Regions from separate parts of the Homo sapiens genome. Here region 2 is linked to region 1. The links come from fine-mapping of genetic effects on gene expression. A gene starts in region 1. The other region holds a variant in brackets. All regions are shown on one strand. Distances are from middle to middle. Region 1 holds the start of UBE2D1 (ubiquitin conjugating enzyme E2 D1). Region 2 holds the start of LOC105378316 (a long non-coding RNA gene).

Region 1 (5,239 bases):
TTGGGAAGCAATTTGTATCTTACGGTTTCAAAATCATTCTCTCACATGATTGCTCTCATATCCATATTCTCAGCCCCATATCTCTACCTACCACTAGGGAAGTTCCACTTGAATACCACATACATTTCATATATGTGTATGTCTTAAGCTCGGTTTACCATTCTCCCCTCCAAAAGCTTATCAATGTTAACACCTTTAACTCAATCCACCACTCATAAATTTAGAGTTCATATTTACTCTTCTATTTTTCTACTTCTGTATGTAATTGCAACAAAGTTCCATGGCTTTTTTTTTTTTTTTTCTCAAAAAGTTCTTCTTTGGGTTTCTAGTGCTATCAACCTTGTACAGGCAGGCCCTTATTATTTTGGTCCTAAATACTGCAATAGTAATTGAACTTGTTTCCCTTTCCTGATTCTGTCCTCATTCCATGTCCCTCCACTAGACTAATTGTCTATTTAATGCATCACTGTCACAATAATACTCTCCTGATACACAACCTCTTGTTGCATTTAAGCTCAATTTCATGTTTCTAAGACTAACAGTCAATGTCCTTCACTATCTGATCTCAACCATTGGACTTAGTTGTATTTCCTTGCTTGGCCTCCATGTTGAGCATTTCATACTTATGTCCATTCCACATGCATTTCCTTACGATTGGAAGTTCTTCACCTATTCTTTTGCTTTTCCAAATGCGTCTTGCATTCAAGTTCTATTGTCTCTACAAAGTTTCCCTTACTCTCCGTCCATGGCAATGCCCTTTTGAACATCTTTAGCCCTTATCCTCTGCACCATTTGTTTTGCTTTAAGGAAATTTTCCTGAAATTTGTTGTTGCTGTTGTCTGCATGACTGACTGACTGACTGAATGAATGAATATCTTGCATTGCTACTTATTTGTTTTATGCATTTATCTTCCTACCATGAAGATTTTAAGTTTATGGAAGGTAAGACCAAATATAATCTTTCTTTTGCATATATTTTACCACCTAGTGCAGTATAATATCCCAAACAGAGATAATTCAGAGGGCAAGGATTATTTATTGACAGTGTGGCCTGATGCCTAGAAATCTGCATTTTTAACAAGTCTTGTACCCTCCTCCCCACCCCATAGGATTTTGATGTTCTGCTTGTGAGTAGGGATCTTGTCTATTTTCTTTATCATGTGTCTTCAGTGCCTGGCATATAGTAAGCATTAAGTAACATTTTTGAATTAGTTATGCAGTTGATCACAAACTATGTTTTGAAACTACATCCTGGGAGAAAGAGTAGGAGATTAAATAACACACTGAACTACTATATGTTGCACATGTATTTGCATGTTGCAAAAATGTGTGTGAAATGTTTTGAAAAGCTTAAAGCAATTTTTTTTTTTTGAGATGGAGTCTCACTCTGTCACCCAGGCGGGAGTGCAATGGCTCCATCTCGGCTCAGTAAAACTGCTGCCTCCCAGGTTCTAGCGATTTTCCTGCCTCAGCCTCCCAAGTAGCTAGGATTACAGACATGTGCCAACACGCCTGGCTAATTTTTGAATTTTTGGTAGAGAAGGAGTTTCACCATGTTGACCAGGCTGGTCTCGAACTTCTGACCTCAGGTGATCCACCTGCCTTGGCCTCCAAAAGTGCTGGAATTACACGCGTGAGCCACTGTGCCCAGCCCATTTAAAGCAATCTTAAAGTGTAAACTATTATTGCAAGATACCAACGTAGATTTTTTTAATAAGTGTTAATTTCTCTTTTGTTGGGAGGTAAACTGCCCTAGGAAAGACAAAAATAATCTTGTAAGCTTACTTTTTAGGTTTCTTTCTATTTATAAAGAAGAGAAAAAAATCACCATTTTTTGTGCAAATCATAGACCTTTGAGTTAGAAGGGCACCAAAAGTTTCAGCTCTATTCCCTTTAAACAAATACAACATTTATTGCATTAGTTATGGGTGAGGAAATTGAGGCTTAGAAGGATTTGAAGATTTGCTCAAGGTGGAGATTCTCAAAAGTGTCCTCAGATACCTGCATCCTAACTTCCTGGGAAGTTTGTTCTAAAGTTTAGACTCCAGAGCTTCACCCAAAACTTACTGCTAAATTAAATCCTTTAAAGGAAATCTGCATTTTTAGGATCTCCTCTTATGCCTTCCAGCATAGTGCTTCTCAAACCCTAATGTTCATCTGAATCACCTAGGAGTCTTATTAAACTGCAAAGTGTGATGTAGCATGTCTGGAGTGGGGCTCAAGATTCTGTTTTTGTTTGTTTGTTTTTGTTTTTCAACTTTTATTTTAGATTTAGAGGCCACATATGCAAGTTTGCTACCTGGGTATGCTGTGTGATGCTGACATTTGTGGTATGAATGATTTTATCACCCAGGTACTGACAATAGTACCCAACAGTTTTTCAACCTTTGCTCCCTCGGTCCCCTCTCTAGTAGTCCACAGTGTCTATTTGTTGCCATCTTTATATCCCTGAGTGATATGGTTTGGCTGTGTCCCCACCCAAATCTCATCTTGGCCAAGAAGCCAAGTTTTAATGGGTACACAAGTGCATAGGAATTGGAGAGTGGGGAGCGTGAGTTGACTATTGGTCAGGGACTGTCAACGGAAGGGAAGGAACCAATGATGGGAGTGAGAGCCCAGAACTCGGTGTTCGAAGTGGGTAATTTATGGGAGGGGCATACCTACGAGCAGACAATGCACTCAGACAAGGAAGATTTGCACATTGGACAGAAGAGACACCTTTTTCCTCTGCAATAAGAACCAAGGAGGTAAGTAGGGGGTCTGATATGAGTTTGTGCATGTGTGCAGGGTGAGTGAGACAATCCATATATTTGAGAAAAGACAGTGAAATCTTTAAAGGTAAAAATAATAAAACCAGCTGTGGCACCTATTGGATAAGGAATTACTAACTGATGATTTAGAAATTCCTTTATGTGCGTTAGGAGCTCATTTGTTATCCCCATTTTACAGATGCGCAGCCCCAGGTTCAGCAATTTGCTCTAAATGAGACTGTAGAGGCTAATTCCAGCCCCCGGCAGCTCTCACCTTAAGCTGCCTGGCTGAGGTCAGCAGTAAGTTACCTGGCAGCGTCCGGGGGCCTGCAGCCGAGGACAGGGCTGGAACTACACTTCCCAGTGTGCCAGGCGGGGCGGGGCGCGGCGGGGAGGGCGCAGGCTCCTTCCCAGAAGCAAAAGCGGAAACAAAAGAGTCTCGCCGGCGTCCCCGCCCGCACACTCGCGCACACTCGCGCTCGGGCGCACACGGAGCAGGGACCGGCGCCCGGAGCGAGCCAGGGAGCGGCTAACCGGGGACCCACCGCGCGGAGCCAGCCTAGCTGCCAGCGAGCCCAACCCGCGACGACCCACGCCCCTGAGCCCCGCAGCCGACCCCTGCCGGCCGGTGTCCCCACCGCCATCCCTGACCCATGGCGCTGAAGAGGATTCAGAAAGTGAGTGCCGGGGCCGGGCCTGGGGCTGCGGGGCAGCGGCCCCCTGCCCACGCTGACTCGGCCAGTGGTCCCGAGAGACATGCGGGGAGAGCAAGGGATGGAAGGGTGGGCCGGGGTGCGGGCAGGGAGCTGAAGGCTCGGGCCGGGCCAGCGGGCATCGGACAGGTGAGGTGGGAGCAGGGTCAGGTCCCAGGCGGCCGGAGGAGCTTGAAGGCTGGGGGCCCGCGCGCGTTCGCGCCGGAGCCGCTCCCGGAGCCCCAGGGTAGAGAGCCTCTTGCGCGTCCAGACCGTCCCGAAATCTGTGCTTCACGGTCACGGCCGGGTTTTGCCCTCCATGGGGCTAGTTTTGACCCCTGTCATGCTGTGTTTTCTCCAGGCTGTTTCTTAAGCCTGTCCTCTTTTATGTTCTTGCTTACCCGGCCTCCCCGGGAGGGCAAGGAAGGTGGGGTGGGCCTGCAGCCTTTCTCCGCGGAGCTGTCGGGTTGGTTCTTTCTCTCCTCTGCGGTTGGCTCTTGCTCAGTTGCCCGAATGGGCTGGAAAGCCCATTTGCGGCCAAGAAGTCAGGAGAAGGCTCCTGCCCCTTCTATTTTGGTGCCTCTGCTGCTGCCACTTCAGGTCACATAGCTGTAGCGAAAACATAGTTGCTGATACACAACAAGATGACCTCCTGGCTGTGATTCACGGTGAGTCAAGCCAAACAGGTTTTTTTCCCCCTCATGATAAACTTAGATGTAAAGTTCGAGACACAACATAAACTGTCGCAAATAAATTGTTTTGATGCTTTGACACATGGGTATAGAATGAGGAAGAAATATATATCTTCATCCAACAACTGTTTACCCATCTCAACCCTGTGTATGGAATCGTCTTTTTTTCACAGTATTTATTGCCACCATTTCAGATGCGAACATCCTTCAGAATTCAGATTCGGGCATTTCTTTCTGTTCATTTTTATTTCTTGTTGGTCTGTGTACTGACCCAAGTTTTAGGTTTTACAGTTACAGTTCACACTGGCAACATTGAGAATGTGTTTGTTAAATAGGGAGTGCTTTTCACTAAGTTAAGCAACAATGGACAGTGTATTTTGTAGTTGTTTCAGAAGAAATTGATGCCCACATTTTTATCCACTTTTTTGACCAGGAGTCCATTATAGCAATAGTATATGTTAGAGCAGTGATAGTGACGTACGCATTGCATTCTGACTCGCCACTGGTGACATCTTTAGGTACAGAGGACAGCAACTTTTAGAGCCTGCCAGTTTTTTATTTTCAAATTCTAAATCTGTGGATCACCTGTTATTTTTTGTGCCATTTAAAGGTCATCTCATTGTAAAACATACAGTTAACAATCAGCATCAGCATTTATTAAGTAATAATGTTTTCTTGTTTGAAGGTAGCGCAATTACACATTGTTTTATATAAATACCCTAATTTTGAAGCCTTAGCATCTTTACCATACCTTGCATACTTATTAATGACGAAGTAATATTGGTTCACATTTGGATCAGAAAATGCACATCTTCCAAGGAAGTTTTCAAATTCTATTTCCTTCTTTCCTAGTTGTGAGAATTTTTCACATGATTTTGCACATACAAGAGCTTTTTAAATTTCATTGTGTTTTTTTAAGAGATGGGGATCTCACTATATTGCCCATGCTGATCTTGAACTCCTGGCCTCCAGAAAGTCTGGGATTACAGACACAAGTCACCATACCCAACTAACAATAGCTTAAGCTGTATAATTTGTCCACAGTAAGTGGATATTCAAAGAAATATGAACATTATTTGTAAATACCACCCTTGGCAGTTCTCAT
Region 2 (5,239 bases), 97 kb after region 1:
CTAGATCCTTGAGGAATTGCCACACTGTCTTCCACAATGGTTGAACTAGTTTACAGTCCCAGCAACAGTGTAAAAGTGTTCCTATTGCTCTGCATCCTCTCCAGCACCTGTTGTTTCCTGACTTTTTAATGATTGTCATTCTAACTGGTGTGAGATGGTTATCTCATTGTGGTTTTGATTTGCGTTTCTCTGATGGCCAGTGTTGATGAGCATTTTTTCATGTGTCTGTTGGCTGCATAAATGTCTTCTTTTGAGAAGTATATGTTCATGTCCTTTGCCCACTTTTTGATGGGGTTGTTTGATTTTTTCTTGTAAATTTAAGTTCTTTGTAGATTCTGGATATAAGCCCTTTGTCAGATGGGTAGATTGTAAAAATTTTCTCCCATTCTGTAGATTGCCTGTTCACTCTGATGGTGGTTCTATTCTGTTCAGAAAATTCTGTTCTATTGGTCTGTCTGTCCAGTCGTGAACTATTATTATGCTAATTTAATTATAGAAGCTTTATAATATGTTTTCATATCTGATATGGCTATGCTCCCCTCCCCACCATTGCTCTTGTCTTTCTTGCTTCTTGGCTGTTCTTGCCTGTCCTTTTTTCTATGTGACTTTATTTTTTTAATTGTATAAATTTATGGGATATAAGTACAATTTTATTACATGCATAGTGGTGATGTCAGTGCTTTTAGGATATCCATCACCCAAATAACGTACTTTGTACCCATTAAGTGATTTCCAATTATCCATCCCCTTCCACTCCTTCACTCTTCTGAGTCTCCATTGTCTATCATTTCCCTCTCTACTTACATATACACCTTTTCTGGCACTCATTTATAAGTGAGAACATGCAATATTTATATTTCTGTGTCTGGCTTGTTTCATTTATGACAATGCCCTCCTGTTCCATCCAAGTTCCTGCAAAAGACATGATTTCATGTTTTTATGGCTGAATAGTACTTTATTCTTTATATATACCACATTTTCTTTATCCAGTCACCTGCTGATGGAAACTAGGTTGCTTCCATATCTTTGCTATTGTGAGTAGTTGATAAACATACAAGTGCAGGTATCTTTTTGATATATTGATTTCTCTTTCTTTGGCCAGATACTCAGTAATGAGATGGCTGGATCAAATGGTAGTTCCATTTTTAGTTCTTTGAGAAATCTCCCTACTGTTTTCTATAGAGATTTTACTAATTTACATTCCCGTCAACAGTGTATAAGCATTCCCTTTTCTCCACACCCTCCCCCAAATCTTTTATCTTTTGAATAATAGCTTCTGATTGGGGTAAGATGATATCTTATTGTGGTTTTAATTTGCATTTCTCTGATGATTAGTGACGTCAAGCATTTTTTCATATACCTGTTGGCCATTTGTATGTCTTCTTTTGAAAAAATGTCTATTTATATCCTTTGCCCACTTTTTAATGACAGTATTTGTTTTTTTTTTTCCCATTGAGTTTTTTGAGTTCCTTGTATATTCTGGATATTAGTTGCATGTAGGATAGTTTCCAAATATTTCTCTCATTCTGCAGATTATTTGTTCACTCTGTTGATTCTTTCTTTTGCTGTTCAGAAGTGTTTTCATTTAGTTATGTCCCATTTGCCTGTTTTTATTGCCTGTGCTTTTGAGGTCTTAGTCATAAATTCTTGCCTAGACCTATATCTAGAAGAATTTTCCCTAGGTTTTCTTCTAGTATTTTTATAGATTTGGGTCTTTTGTTTAAGTCTTTAATCCATCTTCAGTTGATTTTGGTATATCCATGCGACTTTAGAATAATTTTGTCTTCTTTATGAAAAATCTTATTAGCATTTTTGTTGGAATCACAATAAATAAATAAATAGGTTAACTTCGGGAGAACTAACATCTTTATGATAATGAATTTCCTTATCCAAGAATTTATTATGTGTCCCAATTATTCAAGTTTAACTTTGTGTCTTTTTGAAATGTTTTGAATTTTTCCTCATATAGGTTTTGTATGTTTCATGTTCCATTTTCTTCCTAGGTATTTTATGGTTTTTTGGTTGTTGGTTTTTTGTTTTGAAACAGGGTCTTGCTCAGTTGCCTAGGCTGGAGTGCAGTGGCATGAACATGCCTCACTGCAGCCTTGATCTCTTG[G/T]GCTCAAACAATCCTTCTGCCTCAGACTTCTGGGTAGCTGGGACTACAGGTGTGTGCCACACTTGGCTAATTTTTTTTTTTTCATAGAGATAGGGTCTTTCTTTGTTGTGCAGGCTGGTCTTGAACTCCAGGCCTTAAGTGATCCTTCTGCCTCGCCTTCCCAAAATGCTGATATTACAGGTGTGAGCTACTGCATCTGGCCTGTAGTTTTTTAAATGGGATCTTCTCTTTCATGATATATTCTAACTGGCTTACACTTGTGGATAGGAAAGCTATTGATTATTTCATTCAATATTAAATTTACTTTTTTGTTTTACTGAATTCTTTTTTATTGGTTATATATAATTTTTCATGAATGTATAGTATTGCATTATATAAAAATACTGTAAGTTAATTAACCAAACTCTTGATATTGAACATTTAGTTTTATGTGTGTGGGAGGTGGGTATGTTTTACATTTTCCCACTATTAATACAAAGATGTTTACATCCTAGTGGCTAAATATTTTTTGTTTCTTTAATAATTTCCTTATAATAGATTCCTGGAAGTGAATTTGCTGCTTCATTGGATGTCAAAACTGGAAAGCTTTAAGAAATATGTTTTGACAAATTGCCCTGGAGAGGGCTTGTACCCATTTATTCTCTAACAAGTTATGTCTGAGAAGGAACAGAGTTTAATTTTACTGGGCCAAGCAAAACATCAAGCTCATTAAAGGCCTAGGGCAATAACTTTCAGATTATTTAGTCACAGACTTTCTGTTTACAAGGAAGTTTATGTATTATATTGAATTATATGAAATTGACATTTTTGCAGGCAATATGGTTGAATATCAGCAGTTTCCTATTGTTCAACTTAACAGAAGCCTAACAGGTATAGCAAAAAAAAAAAAAAAACACAGCTGTTTTGACTGATGATGGAGTAGGGGTATTCAGAAGACCTCAGAGAAGGGCTTAAGAGCAGCTCTCTAGGCACAAAGCCCTGGGTGGGAAGGCAGGTGCGGGATCTGGGAACCCTCAGGGCTTCAGTCAGGGCGAGTGTGTGGACAAGGGTGGTGGACAGTGTGAGGGCCCTGATTGCCTGTGGGATAGGAGCTGGCAGAGAGGACAAGAACATCAACATCTGGCAAGGGAACAGGTGCTTTGGACATTTGCCTTTAACAGCAAGTCTGACCTTGCCCTTTTGTGGGATTGCAATGTCTGAGAAGCAGTACCAAGTTCCTACAGTGTCTCTGTGATGTGTGGAAAGATGTGGGTTCAATCCCAGATCAAGTATTTATTAACAATGTGACTTAGGGCAAGTTTGTAAGTTTTTCTATGAGTTAGTGTTCTTTTCTGTAAACTGTGAATAAGAATTCCTACCATATCAGTTTGTTGTTAAAATACGATGCTATGGCCGGGCATGGTGGCTCACGTCTGTAATCCCAGCACTTTGGGAGGCTGAGGCAGGGTGATCACAAGGTCAGGAATTCCAGAGCAGCCTGGCCAATATGGTGAAACCCCGTCTCTACTAAAAATGCAAAAATTAGCCTGGCGTGGTCGTGGGCGCCTGTAATTCCAGCTACTTGGGAGGCTGAGGCAGGAGAATCTCTTGAACCCGGGAAGCAGAAGTTGCAGTGAGCCCGAGATCGTGCCACTGCACTCCAGCCTGGGCAACACAGTGAGACTCCATCTCAAAAAAAAAAAAAAAAAAAGATGATGCTACAAGCTACCTTAGATACTTAAAGTATTACATAGTACACAATAGATTCTCAAAAATGTCAGTTGTAATAATAATTTCATTATCTTATATTCATTCCTTTTGCTCTCATCAAGGTTCAAAAGGACATCCAAATGTGTGTTTGTTTAGAGTTTATCTTAGGGATTCCACCTCCCTAATATGTCTGTGAACCAAGGAATAGAATAACAGTAATAATTCCTCTCATTTTGTAGAAAAGAAACTAGAGCAGCTTATTGTTTAGCTCCATGAGGACCATTAAGCACTGGGACTCATTTTTATTCTCAAAGACTCCCAGGTGAAAAAGACCTGGAAATCATCTGTTAGTTCAGGTTGAGTCTGATTTCTGATTCACATCTGCAACACTCTTGGTGAGACACGAGCAAGCCTAAGGATGGATAGCAAAACCCACAATACCCATGCCATCACGCCTCTTTCAAGGTCTCATGTAAATATTATTAATTTTTTTAACTTGTCCAAGTTCACAAAGCTAACTCTTTTTTAATGATATTTATTTTACTGCTGAGCCCTGATGGGCCTCAGAATCCTTTTCAACAAATTCTGGAAGCAGCTAATACTAAACAATTTGATCTGTCACATTGAGTTGAAATCTATGTGCTGTTCTGACCCAGCCTCTAGCCGAGAGCTAGCCAAAGGCTGGGAATGCATTTCTACTTGCAAGAGCTAGTTTCATCTCTGGAAAAACATGCTGTCTCATTTCACTTTTTAATTCCCCCAAAATATATGCATAAATGCTTAATAAAGATTTTTATAATGAATGAATAAATAAATAACTAAAGGAAAGATTTACAGAAGTGTTTCATAACTTGCCTCAGATCTCCTGGAAAATGTGTTGGTTCATCAGACATTTACTGAGAACCTATTATGTTAAGTACCATTTATGTGAGGTGATCAGGAAAGTCTGCAATGATATGACTTTTTAAGTTATGGTGAAATATACGTAACATAAAATTGACCAGTTTAACCATTTGAAAGGTACAGTTCAGTGGCATTAAGTACAATCTCACTGTTATGCAACCATCGTCCACATCCATCTCCAGAACTTATTCACGATCATAAACTGAAACTCTCAACTCATTAAACCCAAATCATCCACTATTCCATCCCCCCATCCCCTGGCAACCACTGTTCTACTTTCTGTATCTATGAATTTGACTACTCTAAGAACCTCATACGTGAATTCATGCAATATTTATCCTTTTGTTTCTGGCTTATTTTACTCAGGATAATGTCTTCAAAAGTTCATCCATATTGTAGCACATACGAGAAGATGACTTTTTAAAAAGTTTTTAATTAAAACATAACATAAAAAGTGAAAAGTGCATAACTTGCTCACAACCTGAACACATCAGGGTAAGTAGTGTCTACATAAGAAATGGAAAGTTACTA

The links. PIP is the estimated chance that this variant, and not a neighbour inherited with it, causes the effect.
Region 2: its variant is the best candidate, but not a certain one, in a credible set for the expression of UBE2D1 in blood mononuclear cells (TOPMed, PIP 0.62).

The regions. Positions count from the first base shown.
Region 1 is chr10:58,331,799-58,337,037 of GRCh38, forward strand. UBE2D1 (ubiquitin conjugating enzyme E2 D1) reads left to right here and starts at 3,208. Exons shown (of 7, transcript NM_003338.5): 1 at 3,208-3,427. The coding sequence starts at 3,404. RefSeq lists enhancers at 2,872-3,372, 2,971-3,265 and a silencer at 3,073-3,592.
Region 2 is chr10:58,428,839-58,434,077 of GRCh38, forward strand. It overlaps LOC105378316 (a long non-coding RNA gene), which reads left to right and starts at 5,088. Exons shown (of 5, transcript XR_945984.3): 1 at 5,088-5,203. The variant G/T (reference allele first, on the strand shown) is at 2,117.